Regions from separate parts of the Homo sapiens genome. Here region 1 is linked to region 2. The links come from fine-mapping of genetic effects on gene expression. A gene starts in region 2. The other region holds a variant in brackets. All regions are shown on one strand. Distances are between the middles of the regions.

The links. PIP is the estimated chance that this variant, and not a neighbour inherited with it, causes the effect.
Region 1: its variant is the best candidate, but not a certain one, in a credible set for the expression of TMEM163 in thyroid (GTEx, PIP 0.73).

What each region holds. Positions count from the first base shown.
Region 1 is chr2:134,688,628-134,698,019 of GRCh38, forward strand. All of the region lies in intron 2 of TMEM163 (transmembrane protein 163), which reads right to left. Among named protein-coding and RNA genes, the nearest start is that of TMEM163, 26 kb to the right of the region's middle. The variant G/T (reference allele first, on the strand shown) is at 5,105.
Region 2 is chr2:134,714,860-134,724,251 of GRCh38, forward strand. TMEM163 (transmembrane protein 163) reads right to left here and starts at 4,141. Exons shown (of 8, transcript NM_030923.5): 1 at 3,875-4,141. The coding sequence starts at 4,076. LOC105373629 (a long non-coding RNA gene) reads left to right here and starts at 3,253. Exons shown (of 2, transcript XR_923354.4): 1 at 3,253-3,708; 2 at 7,543-7,665. RefSeq lists a silencer at 4,225-4,464 and an enhancer at 6,167-7,366.

The DNA of each region.
Region 1 (9,392 bases), 26 kb before region 2:
TTCTCCACTGGAGACATTCATAGACACTCTACATATTTCCTGCAACAGACATTGAGCAGCAATGGAAGAAATGACCTTCAATCTTCATCAAAGTATTAATCCTGTTCTAATGTCTTATAATACTAAGCAACAGATTATCTTCCTTTCAGGACTCAGACACACCGCCCCACTCCCTCCTCCCTGCTACCACACACGCACACTCTCTTTGGAACTATGGTATCCACTAGCCACATGTAGGTACTGAGTACATGAAACGTGGCTAAGTGGCTAGTCCAAACTGAAATGTACTCCATGTGTAAAGCACACACTGGATTCCAAAGATTTCACATGAAAAATAGAATGTAAAATATCTCAATAATTCTTATATTTTATTACCAAGTATAATATTTTGGATATACTGGGATAAATAAAAATATCAGCAAAATTAATTTTATGTTTCTTTTTACTTCTTTGTTTAATGGAGTGCCTAAGTTTTTTGTTTTGTTTTTTTTTTTTTTTTGAGATGGAGTCTCGCTCTGTCACCCAGGCTGGAGTGCAATGGCATGATCTTGGCTCACGGCAACCTCTGCCTTCCAGATTCAAGCGATTCTCCTATCTCAGCCTCCCAAGTAGCTGGGATTACAGGCATGCATCACCACGCCTGGCTAAGTTTGTATTTTTAGTAGAGATGGGGTTTCACCATGTTGGTCAGGTTGGTCTCAATCTCCTGACCTCAGGTGATCTGCCTGCCTCGGCCTCCCGAACTGCTGGGATTACAGGCATGAGCCACCATGCCTGGAGACAATTTTTAATTACACATGAGAGTCACATTTGTGACTAGAATTATATTTTGTTTCTATTGGACAGCACTGGTCTAGGGACTCAGCTCACTTCCCCAAATGACTAGCACTGTGACATCCTCTCCAACTGCCCACTCCTGAGAGGCCTGCTGCCACTCAAAGGAACTCAGAGGTCCAGAAACTTCCAGGGAGGCCTGCTTCAGGGATGGGGCTTCCTTGAGGAAAACAAGATGAGAGAGGTGGGGGAAACGTTCACAGTTCATCTCTCCCTAGTGCACATGAATGAGTTCAGAGGAAAAGATACAGTTAGAAAAACTAATAGCTTGTGCTTTTATGACCAAATGTTATGGCTTCCTAAATTTTAACAGCCAAATGTACCACAAAGTTACACATTTTAACTTTATTTCAAATAAACACCCAAGCAAATATAGGTCCCCATCAAAAATGTGGTTTCTCCAAAGAACGGCATGCAGAGCCCAAAAGTAAAAGTCAACTTGCTCCTTTGCGGTTTGTTTGTTTGTTTGTTTGTTTGTTTGTTTTTGGAGGCAGAGTCTCACCCTGGCACTCAAGCTGGAATGCAGTGGTGTGATCTCGGCTCACTGCAATTTCCACCTCCTAGGTTCAAGCAACTCTCGTGCCTCAGCCTCTGAAATAGCTGGGACTACAGGCACGCACCACCATGCCTGGCTAATTTTTGTATTTTTAGTAGAGACAAGGTTTCGGCATGTTGGCCAGGCTGGTCTCCAACTCCTGACCTCAAGTGATCCACCCGCCCCGGCCTCCCAAAGTGCTGGGATTACAGGGGTGAGCCACCGTACCCGGCCTCTTTGCATTTATATACACTGGATATCCATCAAGTTATCAAACTTTACCTACATCAGCAATTTTTTTTTTTTTGAGACAGAGTCTCACTCTGTTGCCCAGGCTGGAGTGCAGTGGCATGATCTTGGCTCACTGTAACCTCCACCTCCTGGGTTCCAGCAATTCTCCTGCCTCAGCCTCCTGAGTAGCTGGGATTACAAGTGTGTGCCACCATACCTGGCTAATTTTTTAATTTTTAGTAGAGACAGGGTTTCACCATGATAGCCAGGCTGGTCTTGAACTCCTGACCTCAAGTGATCCGCCAGCCTCAGCCTCCCAGTGCTGGGATTACAGGCATGAGCCACCGCACTCAGCCTATATCGGCAATTTATAAAGGAGAAAAGTCACAAATCAAGGTGAAGGATGGATTTCATTTACCACAAGAAAAGCCACTGAATTCTTCAGAGCCTTGAGCAAACTATGAAAAAACCCAATCCTTCCCTCTGACACAATTAAGAACTTCATGACTTTGGCTTTCTTTACACAGCTATTCTCAAGGCTGACTAATTAGACCTTGTATAATCACAGTTGTGGCCATTCCCACCAGTGTAAAGCCTAATACTAGCAAAATGCAAATATCAGTGAAACGGAAATACACTACTAAAGTAAAGACAGGGCCCTGGATAACGACTTTGAGAGACAACTTCCTCATTCATTTATTCAAGAAACCCTGACTACCCATCTACCTGGTCCAGGCAATCGGTGCCCCAGGGGTGGGTGACAAAACGGAGGAGATCAGGTCCCACACTCCAGGCGCTCACAGTGTGGCTGGCGGGAATGGTAGTCAGGGGTGGGGGAGGCACTCTGCCAATCACTGGGGAAATAGGAGGGCAGTGGTTCATACAAACAGCAGTGAGGGCCTCAGCAGGGAGCAGCCAACTCTCCCAGAGCAGGACTTTGGGGAGAACAGGGGAGAAATCAAAATGCCTGGTGAGTTCCAAGAACAAGGGTAGCAAAGCCCCCTCTTCATCTCTCTGCTGCTGGCCTTCTGCAGAAAAGGGGATCTCAAGTCAGCACCTGTCATTCCACAAGTAGACCCGTGTCCCTGGAGGAGCAGTCAAGTCACTGAGTCTGCCTAGCGTAGGCACCAAACATCAAGAAGCCCTTGTGGCTGTACTGAGAGCCCCATTCTCCAATCCGGGTTTCTCAGCCATGAAGCTGATATTTTGCTTTCCCTCTGTTTGACTCCTCTCTGGTTCTGAACTTGGGAAGAGAAAATGAATGTTATTCATTGTATTTCCAAACAACTCTATTGTAAATACACACACACGTGCATGTACACATACACATGCTCATACAGACATGCACACATGCGCACGTACACCCTTGTCAGACAACCCTAGGTGCCGCCAGGCTTCTCCAATAGACAGCACTATGCTGACAGTCCCTTTCCTTCTCCAATGCTCATGCCCATCTCTTGGCAACCTGGCTTCCTTGTTTACCACTCTGACAAAATGTTCTCTGCAGAGTCACAAAGTGACATCCTAAACACCAACTCCAATGAACAGTCTCCTCAGCCTTGACCCTGGCTGGCATGTAACATCGCTGGTCACACCTTCTTGAAGTGTTGTATTTGCCTTTCTGTATCCTTGTACAATCCTTGCTCCACATCCTAATCCCTAGAACCTGTGCACGTTACCTTAATAAGCAACAAATAGGATTGAGGCAGGGGCTGCAGTGGATATCTTTGCAGATGTGATTAATTTCAGAACCGTAGCAGGAGTGATGACCCTGAGTTATCCAGGTGGGCCTTAAATGCCATCACAAGTGTCCTCATAAGAGACAGGTGGAGGGAGATTTGACACAGGGAGAAGTAGAGAGAGATTTGAAGATGCCAGCCTTAAAGACTGGAGTGATATGCCCATGAGCCAAGGAATGCCAGCAGCCACCAAGAACAGAAGAAACAAAGAAAGTATTCTTCCCTACACCTCTGCAGGAGCACAGCCCTGCTGACCCTTCACTTCAGCCCAGCGATCCTGATTTTGGACTTCTGGTCTCCAGAAATGTGAAAGAATAAATAGATCTTGTTATTAGAAGCCACCAAGTTTGCAGTCATTTGTTACAACAGCCAGAGAAAATGAATACATTCCCTTCAACTTTTCTGACCTCTATGTCTTCCACTAGTTCCTTATCATCTTCCTACCCCAAGAGAAGTCATTCTCCAAATTCTGTCCTTTGCCGTTTCCCCTCCTTAGTCTGCTTGGGCTGCCATAACAAAATACCACAGGCTGGGGGACTTCAACACCATGAATTTATTTCTCACAGCTTTGGAGGCTGGAAGTCCAAGATCCAGGGGCTGGGAGGGTTGGTGTCTGGGGAGGGCTCCCCGTGGGTTCCAGATGGCTGCCTCCTCACTGCGTCCTCACACGGCCGTTCCTCAGTGCAGAGGGTGGAGGCAGAGAAGAAGCAAGCCCTCTGGTGTCTCTTCTTATAAGTGCACAATCCCATCACGAGAGTCCTGCCCTCATCACCTCATCATCCTCATGACCTTGTGTAAACTGAGCCACCTCCCAAAGCCTCCCCCTCCAAATACCATCACACTGTGGGTGACAGCTTCACATATTTATTTTGAGGAATACAATTCAGTCCAAAGCAGTTCCTCTCTCCTCCTCATGATCCCAGGCTACTTCACCCATCCACCACATTGCCTCAGTCATTGCCCTAAAGCAAAACACTCCCAAATCCATCTTTCTTCCAGCACCTCAGTCACGTTCCAGTTGCAGGTTTCCAACTGATCATCAGTTGTCTCCTTCCCAAAGTACTGCCAGGCCATAACCCAGCATCTTCACACTGAAGACATCTCTGGACCCCCCTGTGCCTCAGCCTCCACAGTGCCACAGAACCCTTGCTTTGTCTCTAATCCCTTATTTCTTTTAGAGATTCTGCCCTCCCCACCCTCTAGGCTCTGGAACTCTTTACTCTCCCTCTTCATCCAGAAACCTTGAGTATTAGCAGATACTGATATGGGCCCTGCTTGAAGAGTAAGACATTTAAAAAAATAAATTTTAACATTGGTTTAAAACTCCAGCAATTGTAGGTGATCAAAAACTGAAACCTTTCCAGACGTGGTGGCTCATGCCTGTAATCCCAGCACTTTGGCAGGCCAAGGCGGGTGGATCACCTGAGGTCAGGAGTTCGAGACCACCCTGGCCAACATGGCGAAACCCCATCTCTACTAAAAATAGAAAAAAATTAGCCGGGCATGGAAGCATGTGCCTGTAATCCTGGCTACTCAGGAGGTTGAGGCAGGAGAATTGCTTGAGCCCAAGAGGCAGAGGTTGCAGTGAGCCAAGATTGCAACACTGCACTCCAGCCTGGGCAACAAGAGCAAAAACTACATCAAAAAAAAAAAAAAAAAAAAAACCTGAAACTGAGCCTACAGCATGATGGAGCTTTTAAAAACAAATCAACCTTGACCTGCTTTGGTAGGAATTACTGTGAATTCCATACCTGTCAGATAGCAG[G/T]TCTACTATATTCTCTGTTGATGACATGACTTAGAAGACACCTCTGGGCACTGCTTTAAACAGGACACCTTTAGGTCCAGACAAGGTTGGCCAGGAGAGTGGGTTTCCTCCTACATGAGGAACAGCTGAAGAGTCTGGGGATGTTCAGTCTTTGGAAGAGGTGACAAAACAACACAATAAGCTCGCACTGCAGATCTGTCTTGTGAACAATGGAGATGGGTCCCATGGTTGAGAGTAGAGGCTCTGAGTCAAGTAGGGCAGAGTGTGAATACTCTATCTCTTATGAGCTTGGAAACTTAGGAAAGCTCCCTAACTTTTCTGAGTCTTAAAATCCCCATCTACAAAGTGGGGATGATAATGTTACCTCAGGGCAATGTTGCAAGAATGAAGTGTGATCTGTGGGAAGCACTTAGCACAGTGCCCAGCATACTATGTGCTTGCTAAGTGTTAGCTAAGAAAATAATGACTATAAAAGAGGAGTTAGAAAAAGGTAAACCATTCAATTAACCATTTAAAAAGCTTTCTGAAATTGGGACTGGGCAACATAAACTGGGTCTCGCTAAGTTATTAGAATCCCAGTACTAGAAGTATTCAAACAAAAGCTGAAGAACTATTGGAATTGACCTAAAGAGGGTAACGAATCTCTAATGATGGCATCTGGGAAGAATGGCACTGCCCATACTGGAGAACTAAAGGACTAGTGTCATTATCATGGTGACTTTATCACTTAAAGGTACTGAGATTTACTTACCACTAAGAACTTATTTCACCAGAAATAAATCACATCTGTCCTTGCTTTGGATAAAAAAATGGCCATCTTTTGTAATGCAGAATTCATTCCCTAAGAATGCTCTCTTTATGGGACATGTAAAGTTTAAGCTTCTCCTTTCAGGAGACTGGTACATCAATTACTCTGTAATAAATATCTATTCAGTTCTGATACCATATCTCCTCATTCACACTGAAGAATAACCTGGGATTAGATCCAAACTCTCACAAAATGACTATATACACACATTATTCTTTAAAAAATATAGCAGAAAGTTTCCATTTTGAAAATGTACTTTATCAAATGAACAAAGATCAACTGACATCTAAAAATACTACAATGTCTCTAAGTATAATTAACTGGAATGCCAGAAATCTCCCGGGATAAATAAAAGCATAATGTAAAAGGAACCCAGGTAAAAAGAAATACAAACTCCACGGTTTTCTGGAAAGAAAAAAACTGGTGGTGAAAGTTTTTTTATTTCCCTGAATTCCTCCTTAAAGACATCAGAAAAACTAAAATAGCAAAACCAATAACAAAGCTAATACTTTTAGAGAACTAAATGATGGAAAGGAGGAAAAAAAAATTTTTTTTGAGACGGAGTCTCGCTCTGTCACCCAGGCTAGAGTGCAGTGGTTCAATCTCGGCTCACTGCAACCTCCGCCTCCCGGATTCAAGCAATTCTCCTGCCTCAGCCTCCTGAGTAGCTGGGATTACAGGTGCCCATCACCACACCTGGCTAATTTTTTGTATTTCCAGTAGAGATGGGGTTTCACCATGTTGGCCAGGCTGGTCTCGAACCCCTGACCTCAGGTGATTCACCCATCTCGGCCTCCCAGTAGCTGGGATTACAGGCGTGAGCCACCGTGCCCGGGCAAATTTTTAATCAAAAAGAAATGAAAAATAAAAATGATGTGGAAAAAAATACTAGATAAAAATGACAAGCAAAAAAGAGCCAACATACACATACATTATAAATCCCTAAGGAATTAAATCAAAGCAACAGAACAGAACAAATACTATAAAAACTGTAGTTTTCTTGAACTAGAAAGACATGAAACTACCTTTTACCTGAAAAAAGTTAACCCAGAAGAGCTATTACCAAGATACAGTTGTTTTATATAGTGTTTTCTGTGCCCAAAGTTCTTCTTAGTCAGCTTGAAGTTAAATTTTTTGAAGTTTCTATTCATGGTTTGTGCTTTCTGTGTCTTAAATTCAAAAGCCTTTCTTTTACTTCCAGGTCAAATGGAGAGTCTCATATTATTGTTTAAAAGTTTTGGTTGGGCATGGTAGCTCATGCCTGTAATTGGGAAGCCAAGGCAGGCAGATCACCTGAGGTCAGGAGTTCCAGACCAGCCCGGCCAATATGGCGAAACCCCGTCTCTACTAAAAATACAAAAAATTAGCCAGGCGTGGTGGTGGGTGCCTGTAATCCCAGCTATCAGGAGGCTGAGGTAGGAGAATTTCTTGAACCTAGGAGGCGGAGGTTGCAGCAAGTCGAGATCATGCCATTGCACTCCAGCCTGGGCAACAAGAGAAAGACACCGTCTCAAAAAAAAAAAAAAAAAGGTTTAAATTCTTTCTTTTCAGGTTTAGTTTCTTAAATCACATGGAATTTATATTTGTATATGTGGGAGGTACAAACTTATTTTAGTTTTTCCATATAGACAGCCAATTGTGGTGGTATCATTATTTCCCTCCCTGATGTGTGATGCTACCTCTCTCACATATCCAATTTCCATATATGTGGTTACTATTTCTGGACTCCCTATTCAACTTTCCTGGTCTATTTGTTCCTAAAAATATCACAATCTCAACTGCCCTAGTTTTAGAAGTTTTGAGATATATATGCACCTTGTTCTTGAAAATTATCTTGACTATTCTTAGCCCTTTATTCCTCCATCAACATTTCAGAGCTTACCAACTGCACTGGAAAAAGCCTATTGGAATTCTTAGTGAAATTGCATGTATTAGGGTTAATATAAGGAGAAATGACATCCTTATTAGATTGTCTTCCCAGCTCTGAACATGAGATTTCTCTCTATTCAGATCTTATTTTATCATTTTAATAGCATTTTATAATTTTCTTCATGAAGGAATTATACCTATATTAGATTTATTCCTTTTGGTTTGTTGCTATGAGAAATGACATCATTATGAAAATTAAAAATGTATTGCTGTGTTGCTATTATATAAGAATACATTTGATTTTAGTATATTAAACTTCTACCCATCCCCAGCAGCTTTGTTGGAATTTCTTACTTCTAATAGTATCTGCAGAATCCCTTGGCTTTTCTTTTGTTTTGCTCTTGTCACTCAGGCTAGAGTGCAGTGGCATGATCTCAGCTTACTGCAACCTCCACCTCCCAGGTTCAAGCGATTCTCCTTCCTCAGCCCCCCGAGTAGCTGGGATTACAGGCACCCGCCACCATGCCCAGGTAATTTTTGTATTTTTAGTAGAGAGGGGATTTCGCCATGTTGGCCAGGCTGGTCTCGAATTCCTGACCTCAGGTGATCTGCCCACCTTGACCTCCCAAAGTTCTGGGATTACAGGTGTGAGCCACCATGCCCGGCTTCCCTTAGCTTTTCTATGTAGAGCTATGGAAAGCTCTATATTGACTATAATATCTATAAAGCTCTATGTAAACTATAATATCCACAAGCAATGATGGTTACTTTTTTCCTCCCCAATCCATATACAGTACCTTTCTTTCTTTTGCTTGCCCTACTATACTGGGTAGGACATCACGTATAATAATAAGGAGAAGTGGTAACAGCAGACGTCCTTATCTTCATTTTAGATTTTTATGGGCTGAGTCTGCCTAATTTACCAGTTACAATTAATATTTTAGGTTAAATAACCTTTATCAGCAATTCCCAGCCTGGTTGCTAAAAGTTTTTATCTTGTCTTGAATTTTACCAAATGCTTTTTGTATTGAGAGATACTATAGGTTTCTTCTCAATTTTTTTTTTTTTTTTTTGAGATGGAGTTTCACTCTTGTCACCCAGGCTGGAGTGCAGTGGTGCACTCTCAGCTGACTGCAACCTCCGCCTCCCGGGTTCAAGTGATTCTCCTGCCTCAGCCTCCCAAGTAGCTGGGATTACAGGTGCCTGCCACCATGCCCACCTAATTTTTACATTTTTAGTAGAGACGGGGTTTCGCCATGTTGGCCAGGCTGGTCTCGAACTCCTGACCTTTTATGAACATGGTAAATTACATAATAAACATTCTGATTATATCATCCTAGATTCCAAAAATAAACACATGTGGTGAGCATGTTCATTTATTTATTTATTTTTATATAAACACAATGAGATTTAGTTTGCAAATATCTTATTAAAGACTTTTTGTATCTATATTCATGAGTGATACTGACCTATAAATTCTCTGTTGCCTTTGATTTAGGTATCACAGTAGTAGTAGTCCCAAAATGATATAGGAAGCTTTCCTTCTTTTTCTGTAGAATGGAGTGCATGAGATTGGGATTATCTGATCCTTGAACATTCATAAAAGCACTC
Region 2 (9,392 bases):
TTTGTCTATATCTTCCTTAGCTGCCAAAAACCACACTATTCCAGTTTTCAACTATACAATCACCAGTTATAGCCCTATCCTAGAATGAGCAGATTCCACGCACCCTTAATAATTTATGTCCCTTTTCCCAAATGATATAAAAATATTCCTTCCATCATGGCCAATTGATTTTCAGGAGAAGTGAAGCTATAACATTTAAGTACTGGCTCAAATAAGCAGTTTGTTTGCTAGGTATTTTGACAGCAACAATCTCCAGATTGTCATCCACTGAGGTAAAAACAAGGTTCCTTTGAGAAGTAGATTTCATTTTCTAAGAGGAATGACAATGATGCCCATTTTCTCTTCAGCCGCATAACATTTATTTTTCCATCCAAAGTCAGCTAGTTTCAATAATATAACTGGTCCTGACCACACATGTGGACCAATCTACATGCTTCACCCACCAGTGAAACAGCACCCCCCTGGAGGAGTTTCAGATGACAGCCCAGGACAGCTGGACTGTCCCGCTAAGGTGGCACTTGGGACTTCTCAGCATTACGACCAGTACTTCTTCCCCAGATCTGGGCCTGTGTGTGCCTCCTCCGTGATATTTTTAAAATTAAAAAATAAAATGGAATAAGTACAATGGGAAGACTGTCCAAAAATGGAAGGACTTTCCCATTTCTATTCAACTTTTGCTTATTTTCTGCTGATTTTCCTTTCTAAAAATATAGCCGATCCTAAGAATGGAAAACTTTGCACTCCTCAAGGGGAAGTGTAGTATGATGATGTATAAAGACTCAGTTCCTAGTGAATGTTCCACACACAGGTACCTCCACACTCATGTTGGATGCAGGCACACTCACAAGTTACAAAGATGTAGTGAGAATTCCTAATGTTTTCAGGAAGCTGTGCTTTAAAGCTGGAAGAAAGCCAGGCTGAAGAGACAGGACAGCCTAGAGAAGCTACGACAGGCCTCGGATTTGCAGGCAGGGCTGGATCCTCCCTACCCATAGCTGGCCCCCATATTTGAATTTCTAAACTCACTCAAATTTCATAATTTGCAATTTTGGCCTGGGAATACTAAGCATAGTACTAATGAGAGACTGATCCTTTATTTATTTTGGAGAGGGGAAAGGTACAAATACATATGGAGAGGCTGAAGCCATCAGTTATTTCTACACTAGTATGCATTAGTTCCAATTCCTTTCTCCTAAGTTTGTCAAGCTTGAACTCTGTGAAGAAAGGGAAATTTTGTTAGATGGGGAAGTACTGGGAAATGCTGACACATATAATTACCTAAGGCTAAGCTGGGCCCTAAGGTTACGGACAGAATGATGGGAAAATACTTGTAGGGAGAAGAATAGGTATTCAAAGGGGATGGGAAGAATGATTAAGATAAACCTGGCCTAATTTTTGTGTTTAGTCCCCAAAGGTCTTAGGCCACAGAGCTCTTGCTCCCTGAGCTTTAAGTTCAACCAGATGGCACTGCAGTTACTGACATTCTGAGCTAGCTAGGTTTCTGAGAACCAGCCCACATCATTTCTAAGGCGCAAATGCCTCCAAAGTCTCAAAACACTAGATTTTAAAGCAAACCTTTGATGAGAGTTAACTGTGGTCTGGAACCACATCCTGATAGCTCCAAAGGGAGTTAGGACAAAAGAGAATGCCAAATACAGGTGCAGATCCGAGGTACCCCTCAACCCCTCTACAGACAGCCTATAGGTATTTAGGCCTGAAAGAAAGCAAGCCAGGCAGGATGCAGAGACACACGGCAGGCAAGTGCTGGGGCTTCCTCCTCCCCAATTCCTCTCACCAGCAGGAAAGAGGTAGCTGCACTCAACCCATTCCCAAAGGATATAAAAATCAATATTGGAAAAATGCAGCCCCATAAGAAAAAAAATAACAGAAACAACAAACACAAAATCTTACAGTAAACCTCCCCAGGTAACGTTCTCGTTTACTTAACAAAAATCACTTATTCACCACATACTGGTTGCCATCAGGAAGAGGTCAAACAAAAGAATGTCACATTGACGTTCAGCTCTCAATGCCACACAGCACCGGGTTCTTTGGCGAATAGGGTTCATCCTAACAGAGAGGCTGTGTGTGATATGCCACGCTCTCAAACAGTGACAGTTTACGAACAGTCAATGCTTTCATGCTATCATATAATGGAAAATGAAATTCCGTTGACCAGAGAAAAATAACCTTAAGAATGAATTCAGAAGGGCTTTTTACACTTGAACATGAACTACAAAATGATGCTAAATATGAACTCACCCTAGCACTGTCTTCCCTCCTATCATTTTGTGGGGTAGGGAGAAACAGGCCAGCTCTTAGAGATGACCTGCAATGCTACAAAAATAAGCTCAACCCAGGCTTCTGTCTTTCTTCAATATGGAATTTTTAAATCCTACGATATTAGCTGGAGAGGGGCAAAGGTAATGAACACATCCTATAATAAAAGTGAGAGGTTTTGTTCCATGCTCGTGATGTCCCCTGTCCTCACCTCTTAAATGGCATCTAGTTATGTGAGAACAGGGGGAGAAACTGCAACAGAGGTGCAGAATTCGTTGCCACTGGAGCAGCTCCAGTTCTCGCTGAGCATCTAGGCGGATTCTCTGGGAACTGCCGTTTCCATGTCATTTTATTTCACATGCTACAGTTTAGAATTTCTAAGGAGAAAGAGATCGTGCATCCGAACACTAAACCGGAATAAAAATGTACAGGAGATACTAAGAATAGGACAGAAACCTGCTAAGTCTAAAATATATAAACCCGCCATAGCCAACAAAATAAGGCTTCCAAGAAAAGGGGGTGGAGGTGCAAAAGAGCCGGCTTCCCCTAAAGGGCCTGGCTGCAAGAATCCCTCTTTGGCCACTAAACGGTTTTAGCAGAACCACAGATTCGTTCTGAGGGGGACAATTTGGATTCGGATTCAGCAAGAAGTAGAAAAGGTGCAGACGCGGCCAAGAACAGGGCTCCCTCTGCAAAGAATCCAAGCCCAAAGGAAACGCGGAAGGGATGGAGAAGAGAGACGCGGGAACGAGCAGGGAGTCTCTCCCGTCCTACACTGGCGACTCAAGGGGGCATCGGCAGTCGGTGGGAGGCAGAGTGTGGTCTCCCAGCAGAGGCAAGTGTGCTGACCTCCAGGCCAGTGTCAGTGGAGGGGAGCTCTGAAGGGTCTGCAGACGCGCCCTCCGGAAACATCAGGTTTCAGTGGCATCCATCCAGATGAGGTTGGTGGCCCAAATCCAAATGTCCCATTCCTCTGCCCCATCATGAGACGACGGGGCAGGGACCCACTGTGACCCGCGTCCGCGATTAGAATCGGGGACTGCCCGAGACCAGAGGCCGCCCGAGTCCCGGCTCGCTCCCCTCCTTGCGCCCTTCGCCGGGGCGGGCAGCCGGGCGGCCGCCGAGGGACATCTCGCGGCTACACCCGCAGAGGGAAGTTCTCCCAGGCAGCCGGCGGAGCCGCAGGGGACTACGGAAAGGAGGATGCAACGAGCCTGGGTCCCTCCGAGCTGAGTAGGGCCCGGAGTGGCCCAGAAGCGCTCGACTCCGAACGCAAAAAATGCCTCCCGCAAACTTTTCCCGTGGGCGCCGGAGGGCCTGGAGCTGGCGGAGAGGAGGGCGCGAGTCCAGGCGGGGTCGGCCTGAAGGCAGCTGGGGTCTGGGCTTCGAGGGAAGGAACCGCAGCCGAGGCGGTGCCGGCCGCAGAAGGTGGGGCTGCCGCTCTCGGCTAGCGGCGTTCTCGCCGGGAAGTCGGGGCTCCGCGCCCCCGCGCGCTCCGAGCCCCGCGCCTCGCCCAGCGCGGCCCGCGAGTGGGGAGAGGCGGGCCCCGAGCAGCCACCCCGGTCGCCGGCCGGGTCGGGCAGCTCGCGCTCACCTCGGTCCTCCAGCCCGTCGCTGAACTGGCCGCTCTCGCTGATCCGCACCTGCCGCTCCTCCTCCAGCTGGGGCGGCTCGCGCACCGGGGAGCTCAGCGGGGCCGGGCCGGGGGCGGCAGCCGGTGGCGCGTGGCCCCGGGGCGGCGGCGGGACGGTGGGCCCCTGGGAGCTGCGGCGCTGGATGCCCGCGGCCGGCTCCATGGCGCGGGGCTGCGGATCCCGGCGGCGGCGACGACAAGCGCGGCGGGGACTCGAGTCAGAAGTGCGAGGCGCCGCGGCTCTGGCGGGGGCAGGAGCGGACGGACTGGCCGCGTGGACAGGGAGGGAGGGCGGGCGGGCGCCGCGGAGTGGAGGTGCACGGGCGGGGGCGGGGACGAGCGGAGAGCCGCTCGGCTCCGCGGCCGGTGGCGGAGGCTGGGGCCGCGTTGTTGCCGCCGCGCTCCGCCCCTGGGGGCAGGTGCGGGCGGCAGGGACCCGCCCCAAGGCCCGGGCGCGGGAGCCGGCGCACCGAGGCGGACGAGAGGGAGGAACCAGCGTGAGGACCCACAGGCGGCCCTGGCAGAGCTTGGCTAGGGCGTAGCGGGGACCCGCCCCACCTGCGCCGCGGGATGGTGCCCAGAGGGGACCCCTCCCACTGGATTCCTCTGGGGTCCGCGAAGCCCGCGGCCGCGCGTGGGTAGCAGACAGCGCCCCTAATTTGGCATCTTTCTCTTCTGGAGCTGCACAGGCTTCAGAGGCTGTACAGGGTCTTCGCCTGGGCCTCCATTCTCACTGCTCATCCAGGGAAAAAGGGTTCATCTGTCCCCAAGCCCGTCGCTCTCCGTCCTTCTCGGAGCTTTAACTCCCCTCCCAGTTTCTCCCTGGAGCACCCATTTAGCCAGGGATGGGGTATCTTTAGGACAGCGGGCGCTATAGAAGATGCTTGAACTCCGAGGCTTCCCCATTTCGACTCTTCCTGGGCCTTTGTCCCATACAGTTCGCTCCCCTGCTCATCTAAGTCTTGTGTGATCTTCAGAAATCCATGGAAGCCTCCCTTCTACGAGAAGTCTCCCCTACTCTGACCCCTGCAGCTCTTAATTCATTTTGTGCGGTGGGGCTGATCTCACCAGTGAGAGTCCACCGCAGGGCACACGCCAGCTCTCTTGATGCCCAGAGAGGAGCAAAAGAGGACCTGCTGTTTAATAAATTCAGCTTGGATTTGTTGAGGCTCAGAAAAGTATACCCCAACGTATGGCACTTTGGTATGCTAAGTTTGAACTAAAAAACTAAACAGGCCTCTGAAGCCGCCTTAGAAACAAAGTCTGTCTCCCCCCCGACTTTCTCCCCACTAAGCAGTTCACAGAAACCAGAATTCCTCTTCCCTACGGTGGTCATACAACCTAGAAATAGTACTCCAACCTCCCTGGTCCTCTGCCTTTCTGTGTAGGAGCTGGCCATGAAGAAATACTCAGACCTACCTTGTCTGATAGTAGATCCTGAGACCCTCATTCCAGAAGAGGTCCTGCTCTATACATGCTGCACAGAGAGGCCAAGAAGAATCTGAACAGGCCTCGCTGGGTTCAACCCTCAGTCTATTACCATTAGATCACACCCTTTGTCCAATCACATTTCTATAAGGCTGTCCATTCTTCACTGAATCTAAGCATAAAAACAGGCAGTTTTCCCTGAGTCTTTGCATCTTCATTTCTGAAGGCTCCTGTATCACATAAAACTTTGATTCAATAAATTTGTTACGCTTTTCTCTTATTAGCCTATCTTTTGTTATAAGCATGTTTGCCGTGCCCCTTATGATGGGGAGGAAAGTATCACACCTTTTCTGCCCCTACCGTTTCAATGGTATCAACATCCAAGCTCTAGAGTCCGGCTTTCGTCTTTAGATTGATTCAGTCTCTGAATTTAATCCGGGTACTCCAAAATGTCAATTCCTCATTTAAAGGAGTCCTCCTCGTTTCTTGAAGAGTCACCCTTTTCCTTTTTCTTGTCTGCTTTGCTTGTGATTGAAATGAGAGTAGGATTTAAATGCCTTTGTGGTGCACTGGAAATATCACCAGAAATGGGGAGAGGGGTCTTACTTTATTTTGTTGCTGCTGTTATTATTGTTGTTGCTGGATTGGAATGAGAAGATCTGAGTTGACCTTGACCAACTTACTTTACCTTGTTGACCACTAATTTCTTCAACTACAAATTGAAAGAGTTGAACTACGTCATTTCAAAGATCCCTTCCTGCTGCAAAGAAAAAGAAAAATGCTATGATTACTTGGATAAAGACAATGAAAATCTCTACCCATTAATCCTGGTTCTATCCTCTAAGGTAGAACATCCTTCAGATATATTTGCAGAGTCATCTCCTCCACTTTTTTCCTCCAGTCTATCCCATTTAATCCCCCTGTCAATGGCTCTCAAAGTATCACCTGGGGAGTCTAAGAACAAAAATACCGAAGCTTCGACTGCTAGAGATTCTGATATCATATTTAACGTGATCGTTCTTGGCTGGGACCTTGGCATGGGTATTTTGTAAGGCACTTCCCCATTCTAAGAGTCATCTGGGGGCTTAAAAAAAATTGGCTGGGCGTGGTGGCTCACGCTTGTAATCCCAGCACTTTGGGAGGCCAAGGTGGGCAGATCACAAGGTCAGGAGATCGAGACCATCCTGGCTAACATGGTGAAACCCCGTCTCTACTAAAAATACAGAAAATTAGCCGGGCGTGGTGGCAGGTGCCTGTAGTCCCGGCTACTCAGGAGGCTGAGGCAGGAGAATGGCATGAACCCAGGAGGCGGAGCTTGCAGTGAGCTGAGATCATGCCACTGCACTCCAGCCTGGGCGACAGAGCGAGACTCCATCTCAAAAAAAAAAAATTATTCCTCCCTGGCTCTCTGAGATTCTGGTTCAATAGATCTGGGATCTGGCTGGGAACCTTCCTTTAAACCCCTCTTGCCCCCCGGCCTCCAACACACATTCTGATGTCAATTATTCTGCAACCACCCTTTATGATTACTCTCCACAATATGGACCATCTAGCTCTGTGCCCTTCACATACACACACACACGGTCTGCAGCAGATTCTCACCAAAGGAACTGGTATCATTATTCTTTCCTCTGGTTCCTCAGTTGGTTCTGTAAGTCCAGCACATCTCAAAGGTGAGCGTGGCAATGAACATCCGCAATTCTTCTTAAAATGCTGATTCTAATTTAGTTGGTCTGGGATAGAGGCTGTCAACCTAAAAGGAAGAGGCTGAGGCACAAAATATAATTGAAAGAATTTGCTTGAGCCCAAATGAGGACAGCTACCCAGGACGTTTCTAAGTTGCCTTGAGGAGTGCTCCATTAGCCTTTGTTATAAGCAGGTTTTTAAAGGCAAAGGGAACAAAGAGAGGGCCGATATAAAGTTGTGTGACAGGAATCCTCATTGGTTTGCAGAGATAACTTGGCTATAGATTGTTGAACTGTCGGGTAGGAGTTATGGTGTCCAGTGTATGGCCATTTTATGGCTATTTGGCATAAATTAGTCTAGAGCCCACATAGTCAGTGGCTTCTAGAGATCATTATTTCACTCAAATGGTTGTCACTTGCTGCTGTTTCATTCCAGTAAGTCTCTGGGGCTGATAATGTAAAGGGGCTTGCATTCCTCAGATTAAAAGTTTCTTTTTTTTGTTTGTTTTCCACCAGGCTGAGATGCTGTTTCTAACAAACCTCCCGATGCTGCTGATGCTGCATATCTGAAGACCACACTTTGAGAAGCAAGGATCTAGGAGTTGTTTGTTATTCATGGAATAAATATATTTCCCATCATGTTCCAGCTGCTCTGGTTAAACAAGCCACTATTGTCTTTTCCAGAAAGATTTCTCTGACTCCAGCTCCCCTTTGGGTGCTCCTTTTTCTAAACTGTAATTGATTAATAATTCACCATTTATTTCATGTGTGGAGCAGGGATAGTGGTGCTTGCCTGATGTGCATTCCTTACAAACACCTACCTGGGCATCGGGGACACAGTGTCCCCTCAAACAATCTCTGCTGATTAACTGGAAGATAACACTAGCTTACATTTTTGGAGGACATACCATGTGCCGGGTACCTAGCTAAGTGTTTTACATGCATTGTCTCCCTCATTCAGCTACTACTGTCCTCATTTCACAGATGAACAAACAAAGGCCGATCTGCCTTGTCGACCTCTGCCCACCACCATAATCCACAGGGGTACTGCCCGCTAGGGGGCATTTTGGAAATTTGCAGGTACTTTCATTGGTCATCACAATGATGGGAGGAGGGGGCCACTGACATTTAGTTGGGGGTGGCCCCAGATGCAGGAGATTGGTCTGTGTCCCACATGGCTTTCATTTGTCAGACCTGACCTTTGCTTCAGTTGAAATGTGCATCGAATTACGGTGGAACTTTAACTTTGTTTTACATATAAACACAAAATGTTTTTGCATCTTGTGAATACACACAGGAATTTCTGGAAATGCAACTACTGTATAAGTCTAGGAAGGGATGGTACTCTTTTTACCACTTTGGAAAATCAGGACACAGAAGCCAGTTCCATTCATGTTATCTGTTTCAGCAATCAACACATATATGATGCCCACAAGCCCAGTAATTTCATATGTGTATATTTCTTTAGTTCCTGTTTCAAAATAACAGCAATTTAAAGAAAAAGTGTAAAAAATATTCCAGAGTGCCTGACTCTCTGTTCTTAAATTATAAATAGGTACAAATATCTGACTGCTTATTTGTGACCTCTGGTGTAGCTCTGAGTGAGCATTTAAATATTAATTATGTATTACTTTATTTTATTCCTCCTCTATTATAATTTAGGTCATTATATTGATTTTTCAACTATGTGTATATGCATTAGCCATGAATTAATTTCATAATCACAATAGTGAATAATGTAAAACAGTTGGGGCCAGGCACAGTGGCTCACGCCTGTAATCCCAGCACTTTGGGAGGCCGAGGCAAAAGGATCACCTGAGGCTAGGAGTTTGAGACCAGCCTGGTCAACATGGTGAAACCTTGTCTTTACCAAAAATACAAAAATTAGCCAGGCCTGGTGGTGCACACCTGTAATCCCAGTTACTCGGGAGGCTGAGGCAGGAGAATTGCTTAACCTGGAAGGCAGAGGCTGCAGTGAGCCAAGATTGTGCCACTGCACTCCAGCCTGGGTGACAGAACGAGACTTTGTCTCAAAAAATAAATAAATAAATAAATAAATAAATAAATAAATAACCAAACAAAACAGTTGGTATAAAAAGGGAGACTGGACCATTACAGCCAAAAGATCCTGAGGAGACACAACCACTAGCTGAAATATGGCATTGTGGAAGAAATCCTGGAACAAAAAAAAGACATTAGGTAAAAATCAAGGAATTCTGAATCAAGTATGGACTTCAGTTAGTAAGGTCTCAATTATTAGTTGTAAAAAAAAGTGCACTCATGTGAGATGTTAGTAATGAGGGCACTGGGTGCAAGGTACATGGAACTTTCTAATCTTCTCAACTTTATGCAAATCTAAAACTGTT